2 separate regions of the Homo sapiens genome follow, and region 1 is linked to region 2. Evidence: fine-mapped expression QTL. A gene starts in region 2. The other region holds a variant in brackets. All regions are shown on one strand. Distances are from middle to middle. Region 1 overlaps SEC14L4 (SEC14 like lipid binding 4). Region 2 holds the start of PES1 (pescadillo ribosomal biogenesis factor 1).

The links.
Region 1: its variant is fine-mapped to the expression of PES1 in tibial nerve (GTEx, PIP 0.97). The same link has a PIP of 0.9 or more in visceral fat.

The regions. Positions count from the first base shown.
Region 1 is chr22:30,491,636-30,495,995 of GRCh38, forward strand. It overlaps SEC14L4 (SEC14 like lipid binding 4), which reads right to left. Exons shown (of 12, transcript NM_174977.4): 3 at 4,293-4,336; 4 at 3,948-4,007; 5 at 3,619-3,807; 6 at 3,231-3,326; 7 at 2,515-2,575; 8 at 839-922; 9 at 414-520; 10 at 199-338; 11 at 1-107. Among named protein-coding and RNA genes, the nearest start is that of SEC14L4, 12 kb to the right of the region's middle. The variant A/G (reference allele first, on the strand shown) is at 2,024.
Region 2 is chr22:30,589,769-30,594,160 of GRCh38, forward strand. PES1 (pescadillo ribosomal biogenesis factor 1) reads right to left here and starts at 2,142. Exons shown (of 15, transcript NM_014303.4): 1 at 2,042-2,142. The coding sequence starts at 2,065. RefSeq lists enhancers at 1,970-2,685, 2,165-2,464, 2,685-2,764.

The DNA.
Region 1 (4,360 bases), 98 kb before region 2:
GGCTGGGCAGCACCTCCGTCATCTCCCTAGCACTCTGCTGCTCCCCCATCTTGGTCTTCAGGAAAACCCCAAAGCCGATGTCCCCACCATCTGAAGCAAACTGCCACCTGCAGTGGATAGAGCCCCATTGGCGACCCCCTGCCTGGGCTCCAGGCCCCTCCCAGATGTGCCCAGGTGTAGAGTGGCTGCCATCCCTACCTGAGCACACAGCCCGGGAACAGGATCTCGTTCTCCACCTGCAGGGAGGAGCCGCGGCCCACGGACCTCGTGTGCTCATACTGCAGCCTCACCTGCTCGCACAGGTAGTAGCTCTTGGGCACCTCACCCCCATAGTTGATCTGTGGGTGAAGGGGGTGTGTGGGCACTAGATCACAGCTTCTCCCCTCCTTCCCCATCCTCTGGGCACCCTGTACCTTGGTCAGGCACTTGGGGTTGCCATCGGGGTCAGTCATGGTCCCCCCAAACTCCACAGGCAGCTGGTCGGGGCTGATGAATTTTGTCAGCTCCTGCTTCCAGTTGTCTGCATGGGAGCAAGAGAGGGACTCCAAAGGGACTCAGGAGACTCAACAGAGGGCAGAGGGGGCTGAGCTTGGTGAGGGAACCTGATATGTCCTGGGCGTGCTCCCCCGGGCACCTACTCCTAAGAGTACCCAAGACCTTTATGTGGCTCCCAGCCCACGGTCTAGGACCCAAGGCATTGCCCGTGCGTGTGGAGGCTCACCAGGGTCAGGCCAGGGGTAGTGCCCGAGTAGAGGACGAGCCAGGGAGAAGCAGGGTCTTTAGCATTGACCTCTGCTTCCCAGGCAGATGGACACAACCAGGGGGCCACGTCGCTCACCTCCCAGAATCACAATCTTCCTGCGTGTCTCCTCACTCATGAACGACTTGACCAAGTTGAAGGCCACGGGGAACAGTTTTGGGGCTGAAACACATGTAAATCTCTTGAGAAGCTGGACCAGAAAGGACGTGGGGATACAGAGCCACAGCCAAGAGCAGGTGCTGGACAGGAGGTGGACAGATATGGATTCTGCCACTCTCTGCTGTGTGACCTTCAGCAAGTTACCCACCCTCTCCAAGTCTTAGTGCAGTTAACTGGAAAATGAAGGTGAAATAATGTATGTATAACACCTGGCACAGTTCCTGGCTTTCAATAAATGGTTGTCTCAGGCCAGGCGCAGTGGCTCATGCCTGAAATCCCAGCACTTTGGGAGGCTGAGGTAGGCAGATCACTTGAAGCCAGCAGTTCAAGACCAGCCTGGCCAACATGGTGAAACTCCGTCTCTACTAAAAATACAAAAATTAGCTGAGCGTAGTGGTGCATGCTTGTAATCCCGGCTACTCGGGTGGCAGCGGCACAAGAATTGCTTGAACCTGGGAGGCAGAGGTTGCAGTGAGCCAAGATCACGCCACTGCACTCCAGCCTGGGTGAGAGAGTGAGATTCCATCTCAAAAAAAAAAAAAAAAAAGAAAAGAAAAAAGAAAAAGAAAAATGGCTGTCTCCCCAACCCAGTTGTAAGGGATTGGGCACAAGCTGGCTCTAGGGTCAGCAATATTGATTCCCCAACAGTATCACTTCTTTTCCACACTCCAGGTTGTCTGGAATCTTCTTGGGTGTGACATCTACATGAGACTTCCTGTCCTGCCCTGAATTGCTCACACTCAACTGAGCACTGTCTGTGGGCCAAGCTCTGTGCTCCATCTTCTCCACACACTGTTTCATTTAACCTCATAGTTATCTTTGAGGAGGGGGCTATTGTATCCCCATCTTACATAATGGGAAAACTGAGGCTCAGTGAGGTTAAGTAGACTTGGATAAAATCATAGAGCTAGTTAGATTTGAACCAGATCCTCTGACTCTGGAACACATGACATCACCAGGGCAGCCAGGGACCATTCCCGCTCAAAGTGTGTCCATCCACTAGTGTGGTCCATGGACTATCTGTTCCCAGCCCACACTGACATAAGTAAGTAACAGTAAACATTTAGAAACTTATAACTTGACATTGCTGAAACATACCAGTGC[A/G]TGATTTTGTATATTACAAAAATATCAGTCTGTGAAGGACTGAAACTAAAAAATAAAGCCAGAGGCCGGGTGCGGTGGCTCACATCTATAATCCCAGCACTGTGGGAGGCCGAAGTGGCTGGATGACTTGAGATCAGGAGTTCAAAACCAGCCTGGCCAACATAGGGAAACCCCATCTCTACTAAAAATACAAAAATTAGCCAGGCATGGTGGCGTGCACCTGTAATCCCAGCTACTAGGAAGGCTGAGGCAGGAGAATTGCTTGAACCCAGGAGGCGGAGGTTGCAGTGAGCCAATATCATGCCACTGCACTCCGGCCTGGGTGACAGAGGGAGACTCCATCTCAATAACTAACTAACCAGAAACCAACCACACAAAACCTGGTTCTTCACAAAGGATGGGTGAAGAAGCCTTTAACTCCATGGCTTACCTACTGTACCCCCAATTCCTGCTTCTCCCTCCCCAGGAGGTCATCCCGGTCATGGGCTTACCTCGAATAACAATTAAATTCTTCAGGGTCTCAGGATAATTTGCTTCCAGGATGCTAAAAAACTGTGGAGTCAAGATGAGTCTGGTTGGGGCTCTGTTCCATCACCTCCCGCCCATGGGTTTCTGTGGCCTCTGATGCTGCTGAGACAAGAGGCCCATCCCTGGCCCATCCTACCTTCCCCACAAGCATGTGCCTCTTCCTCTCTGTTATTCTTTTTTTGTTTGTTGATTTGTTCTCGAGACAGGGTCTCACTCTGTCTCCCAAGGTGGAGTATAGTGGCACAATCACAGGTCACTGCGACCTTGAATTCCTGGGTTCAAGAGATCCTCCCGCCTCAGCCACCCAAGTATCTAGGACTACAGGCACGTGCCACTGCACTGGGCTAATGTAAAAATTATTATTATTGTTGGTAGAGATGACATCTCACTGTGTTGCTCAGGCTGATCCTGAACTCCTGCTCAAGGAATCTTCCCACCTTGGCTTCCCAAAGTGCTGGGATGACAGGCGTGAGCCACCACGCCTGGCCTCTTTGTGTTAATCTTGCTCCCCTTTCTCCGTGGAGGGTGGTCTCTAGGCCAGCATCATTGGCTGGTCTGTGGAGCCCCTGCAAGGCATCCCCACCCCTCTATCTCACTGGATTCTCACATCAATTCACAGCTAGGGCTCACAGCTGGGAGCCACTGCCCACACCAGCCCCAAGCCAGCCACCCACCTTACCTGCTGGTAGACCTCCACAGCTGGCTTCCACAGGTGTTTCAGGCTCAGCCCCTCCATGTCAAACACCATCAGCGCCATCTCGATCTTCCTGCCCAGCTGCTTGGGACAGAGTCATATAGGTCAGACGACAGCTCCAGCCAGGAGATCCTGGCCAGAGAGACTTGGGCACCTCTCCCCACCTTCCTGCCATCCCACCCTCTGGCAGCCCACAGCGTTTTCCAGACAGATGGACAACACCTCACTTTTACGGGTGGGTAAGGGTGGGAGAAGCCCACATTCCACCAGAGCCCTGGGTGCTGAGGGCTGGGGAGGGGCAGGGTGCCACCCTTCTCTGGTCCTGGTGCCACCCTGTAGACAGATGAGGCCCAGCCCCACCCCCGCTGCTCACCTTCTGAGTTTGCAGCTCACACTCATGCAACAGCAGCTCACAGACTTTGATGCGCTTCCGGATCATATCCTGCTTGGAGGCTGACAGCAGGAGACCCTTGGGGTCGAGGGACCCAATGATGTTGAAGTACACAGGGCAGCCTTCGTAGTCGTAGCCACAAAGACCACCCGAGTCATACAGCTGGATGACCTGGAAGTGTGGGTAAGGTCCCGACTCAATCCAGCTCACCAGGCTGGGTCCCTACTCCATCAGGTGGCTGGACGTGGTAGGTGGGAGATGTCAGGGGTGAGGGGCCTCAGATGGCCTGGGGGATGCTGCTCGAGGCTCACCTCAGGGGGCTGCCATGTGACAATGTTGTCCAGGTCTTGTTGCTTCCGGAACTCCATGTGCTGCAGGAACACAGCAGGAGCTATAGGATTTTGCAGGAACCTGGGGACACCAGGCTAGGTCCCTCTGCCCACAGCCACCAAGATCCCACCACAGCATACCCAGGCTCTCAGAGCGTGGGGACAGGAGGTGGGCTGGGGGGACTTGGGTCTGATGCAGAAAGAGATCGGGGGAGGAAGAAAGAAGAAACAGGAGAATGGGACAGGGCCAGAGTCTCTACCCTTTTGCAGCAAATCCCTGGGTCACAGTGCATGGAAGGCAGGGCAGTAGGGATCACAGATCCTTACCCTTCGGAGCATGTCTTCGGATTTCTGCAGGTCAAAGTTTCGAGCTGCAAGAAGAGGAGGTAAATAGA
Region 2 (4,392 bases):
GTTCCTAATCTTTTCCCCTTCTTTTCTTCCTCATTATAACCTCTTCACCACTACCAGGAGACTTATTAGACACCCCCTTCCTCCCTCACCCATCACCCTTTCTTCCCTATGCCCCATAAAATGTTAATACCAGAGATATACTGTAGGTCTGTTTATGTAATGTAGTCCTTGGGGAGCCACAACCATTGTAATAGCTAAGATACTGCCCCTCAACCAATTTTGTTCCCTTGAGGGTGGTATTACCCTGGCTGAAAAAGCATGCTCTAAGCCACACAGCTTCTCCCCTTCCTCATTCATTCATTCAACAGACAATAACAGGTCCTCTATTATGGTCAAAGCACTAAGCTAGATGCTATGAAGGCAATAAAGACAAAAAGCCTGGTCTCTACCTGCCCCTAAGAAGCCTATTGTCTTGTATAACCATCTGGATGCCTGTGGTGCTAAGATGCTGCCTCACACCCACATTTCTGTATCCCTCACACTTCTGTATCCCTCGATAGAGACAATCAGTGCACTGTAACAAATACCCTGCAAGCTAACAAGCATGTCGTTTCCAAACAAGATCTTCCTCTGGACTAAGACAGCAGGGGCCTCTTTGGCTAGGTTCAGCTCTAAAGAGACAAACCTGTTAGTCTCCCACAGGTACGTTTACTAATAACATCATAGTCATGAAACATACCCTTCATTCATTCTTTCCTTTAGACATTAATTGTCTATTAGGTATTAGGCCCATGCTAAGTCTTGGAGGTATAAAGATGAGTTTCAGACTGCCTTAAGAAGTTGAGTTTTCATTTATAGCGTTTTCCATTACCTTATGCCACACTTATCTCTGTCACCATGCTTATCCTTATAAATGTTAAGGGAATAAATAGTTCTCAATGGGGTACTCCCTGGGTATGTGCTGGGGGGAGGAGAGTTCAGCAATGTTTGGAGACATTTTTGGTTGCTGGGTGCTACTGGTATCCAGTAGGTAAAGGATCAGGGATGTTGCCAAATATCCTACTACACACAAGACAATCCTTCCCACAACAAAGACTCATCTTTGTTGATTCTGGCTCTGAAACCCAGCTTTTAAAAACTGTAACGATTTTGTTACATATCTACATCTGCAACTCAAGGGCAGGTTTTCCATCTTGTATCTTTGCAGTTCCGATGGCTAGCACTGGATACTCAATGTAGTGTGTTGGGTTAAGAACACTGGCAATAGAAACTTTCACTCTGAAAGAAACACTTAAGCCAACTATATATTCCTCATTCCCATTCCCTTCCCAGTCTTTTCATGTCACTGGGCCGATTCTCCATACAGCCACAAGAACTCCCTGAAAAACTCTAATCGTGTTACTCCTCCTTTTTTTCCTACTGCACGTAGAATAAAATCCAAGCTCTACACTATTCCTACTGCACTTAGAATAAAATCCAAGCTTACAGGCCTTGCACGATACAGTACGTGTCCAACCCCAATCTTATCAGATGCCATTCTTTTCTTGGTTTACATGCGAGTCATCCTAATGTCCTTCCAACTCCTTACACACAGCAAGCCTTCCCTGCCTACTGATCTTGGCACTTGGTTTCCCTTGTCAGGCCTGCTCGCTAAGCACTCCCATGCCCCAGAACCCATCCAAGACGTTCTGATCTTTCCCATTTCAGCCGAAATGTTATGCCTCGAAGAGAACTTCCAAGACAACACTAACCAACTAATGTAACGGTGCAGTAACGGTGAGCTCTACGTAATGTTTATCACCCTTTCGGTAAATAGTGGTCCCACGGCTCGGCCTGCTTTTGGAATGAAGCTACGCTTGGTAAGTTCAACTCTCTTTCACAGCCCTCTCCACAGAAAGAACTCTGGAGTTCGTTCTCGGATTTCACTAAACGAATACTGCCATCCTTGTCCATTCTCGGACCCCTTCTCGCAGCTGATTACGGTCACGTCGATCCCGTCTTTCCAGTCTCCACGAGACGGAGCCCGGGAAAAGAGTCGACCCCATGCTCTGCCGCCCCCGCACCCCACCCCTCGGGAATCCCCACCGTCTTTCCCAATCACCTTCTTCTTCTCAAGGCCTCCCATCGCTCCACGTTGAGGAGCCGACTAGGGCCGCGCGTACAGGGAGCTCCACTTCCTCCCGCACGTGCCCTGCCAAGGACCCCGAGGACCCTCCCCACCCCACGCTGTCTGTTTGTGCGGGCTGCCCAATGAGATGCCTGTACAAGTCCAGGGAAAGATGGGGATTTCCTCCTCAAGATTTAAAACTATAGTCTGAAAAAAATCACTGAGAACACTCTTTCCAGATCTTTCCCGCTCACAATGGTTACAAACACTTTAAGTGTTAAAACAAACGTGGATATACAGGCTTTTCTGTAATCACCCTGATGACGATTCATTGACTGTGAGCCTCGTTGCATGTTGGGACGGAGAGGGGCGGAAGGCTTAGGGACAGCGCGGTGCCTTCTGGGATGCAGAGGGGCGCCGCACTCCATGGTGCGCGATAGGATTGCGTTGTCAAGGTAACGGTTGCTAAGCGTCGTCAGACTTCGGCTGCCGCTGCTGAGAAGCGGTTCCCGAGGGGCAGGGTGAGACTGCGCTGAGTTCCCACCGGCTTCGGGTTCTCTTTGGTTCATTCGCGGTTATGCGGCTAAAATAGAAAAAAGGAAGACATTTTTCCTCGCGGAGGTATAGAGATCCTAGAGGCCACTTATATTTTCTGAGCCTTAGTGGTGGACTCGTGGTATATTTAAAATGTACATTCAAGGCTGGGAGCGGTGGCGCACGCCTGTAATCCCAGCACTTTGGGAGGCCAAGACAGGCGGATCATCTGAGGTCAGGAGTTCGAGACCAGTGTGACCAATATAGTGAAACCCCGTCTCTGCTAAAAATACAAAAATTAGCTGGCCATGGTGGCACACGCCTGTAATCCCAGCTACTCGGGAGGCTGACGCAGGAGAATCGCTTGAACCTGGGAGGCAGAGGTTGCAGTGAGCCGAGATCTTGCCACTGCACTCCAGCCTGGGCGACAGAGTGAGACTCCATCTCAAAAATAAATAAATAAATAAAATTAAATGTACATTCAACATATTCGAGCTTTTAATTTGTACACATAAATTCTGTAAGTGTTCCTCAAATAATAATTCCAAGATTTATACAAATAGTCACATCACCTTGAGATGGTGCAGTCTGGAAGTAGATGCAATTTTAAGAGGTTTTTTTTTTTTTAAACGTTTCTCCCTTTTTCCAAATTCCAAATTTCGTTCGAAGATGATCTCAAAAGTTTAAATTTGAGGCTCTTGTGAATGTGACCTGGCCCAAGGACTTGGTCTTAGAACTTACACAGAGACAGACGTTAAGCACTGGTGAATACTTGTTTTGAACTATGTGACTTGCACTATCTAATTTAAAGCTAAAATTTAAAACCCAGCAATTCCACAGTTAAAAATGAGATGAAGCCGGGCACGGTCGCTCACACCTGTAATCCCAGCACTTTGAGAGGCTGAGGCAGGCGGATCACCTGAGATCAGGAGTTTGAGACCAGCCTGGCCAACATGGCGAAAACCCATCTCTACCAAAAATACAAAAATTAGCCGGGTGTGGTGGCAGGCACCTGTAACCCCAGCTAGTTGGGAGGCTGAGGCAGGAGAATTTATTGAACCCAGGAGGTAGATGTTGCAGTGAGCCAAGATTGTGCCACTGCACTCTGCACTCAAGCCTAGACGACAGAGCGAGGCTCCATCTCAAAAAAAAAAAGAAGAAGAAGGAAAGGGATGGACTGGAGAGGGTGGCAGTGGCTGGCTCATGAGGGCAACACAGGAACAGGGCTGGTGTCGTGAGCATGTGGCCTGGGCAGTCATCTCACCCTGTCCCTCACAAATCACCTAGCTCGTCCTGCACAGATAGAACCATGTTTGCAGAAAGTTGAGCCTTGTTTTGCTCACATTAATGTTGAGGGGTCACTGGAAGACACAGGTGGGGATGTTCAGGGAAGCAATTGTAATTTCAGCTCAAAATAGCCGTCATATAGGTACCACATTTCACAAGGGAGGAAACTAAGTCTCAGGAAAGTAAGTGATCGCTGAAGATCACTCAGCTGCTAAGCTGTGCAGAATAGATTCTCACCAAGCAGTCTGGTTTCAGAGTCCTCTGCTAAACTCACATTCCACTACCTAACGTATAGTAGAAAGAATGTTATGTGACTCCAGGATAATGCCAGGTAGATTTTTGTTCCATAAAGGGAAGAGGTTTTTAACCATTAGGGCTGCCCACACACAGAATGCTTTGTGCAATACCAAGCCTCCATCAGCATTACGGTGAAAAGCCCAGTCTCTGCAGGGAGACACACCTGGTTTACCTCTAAGCCTCGGACAAGCCACTTTACCTCAGGGTACCTCTCTTCCTCATTTGTA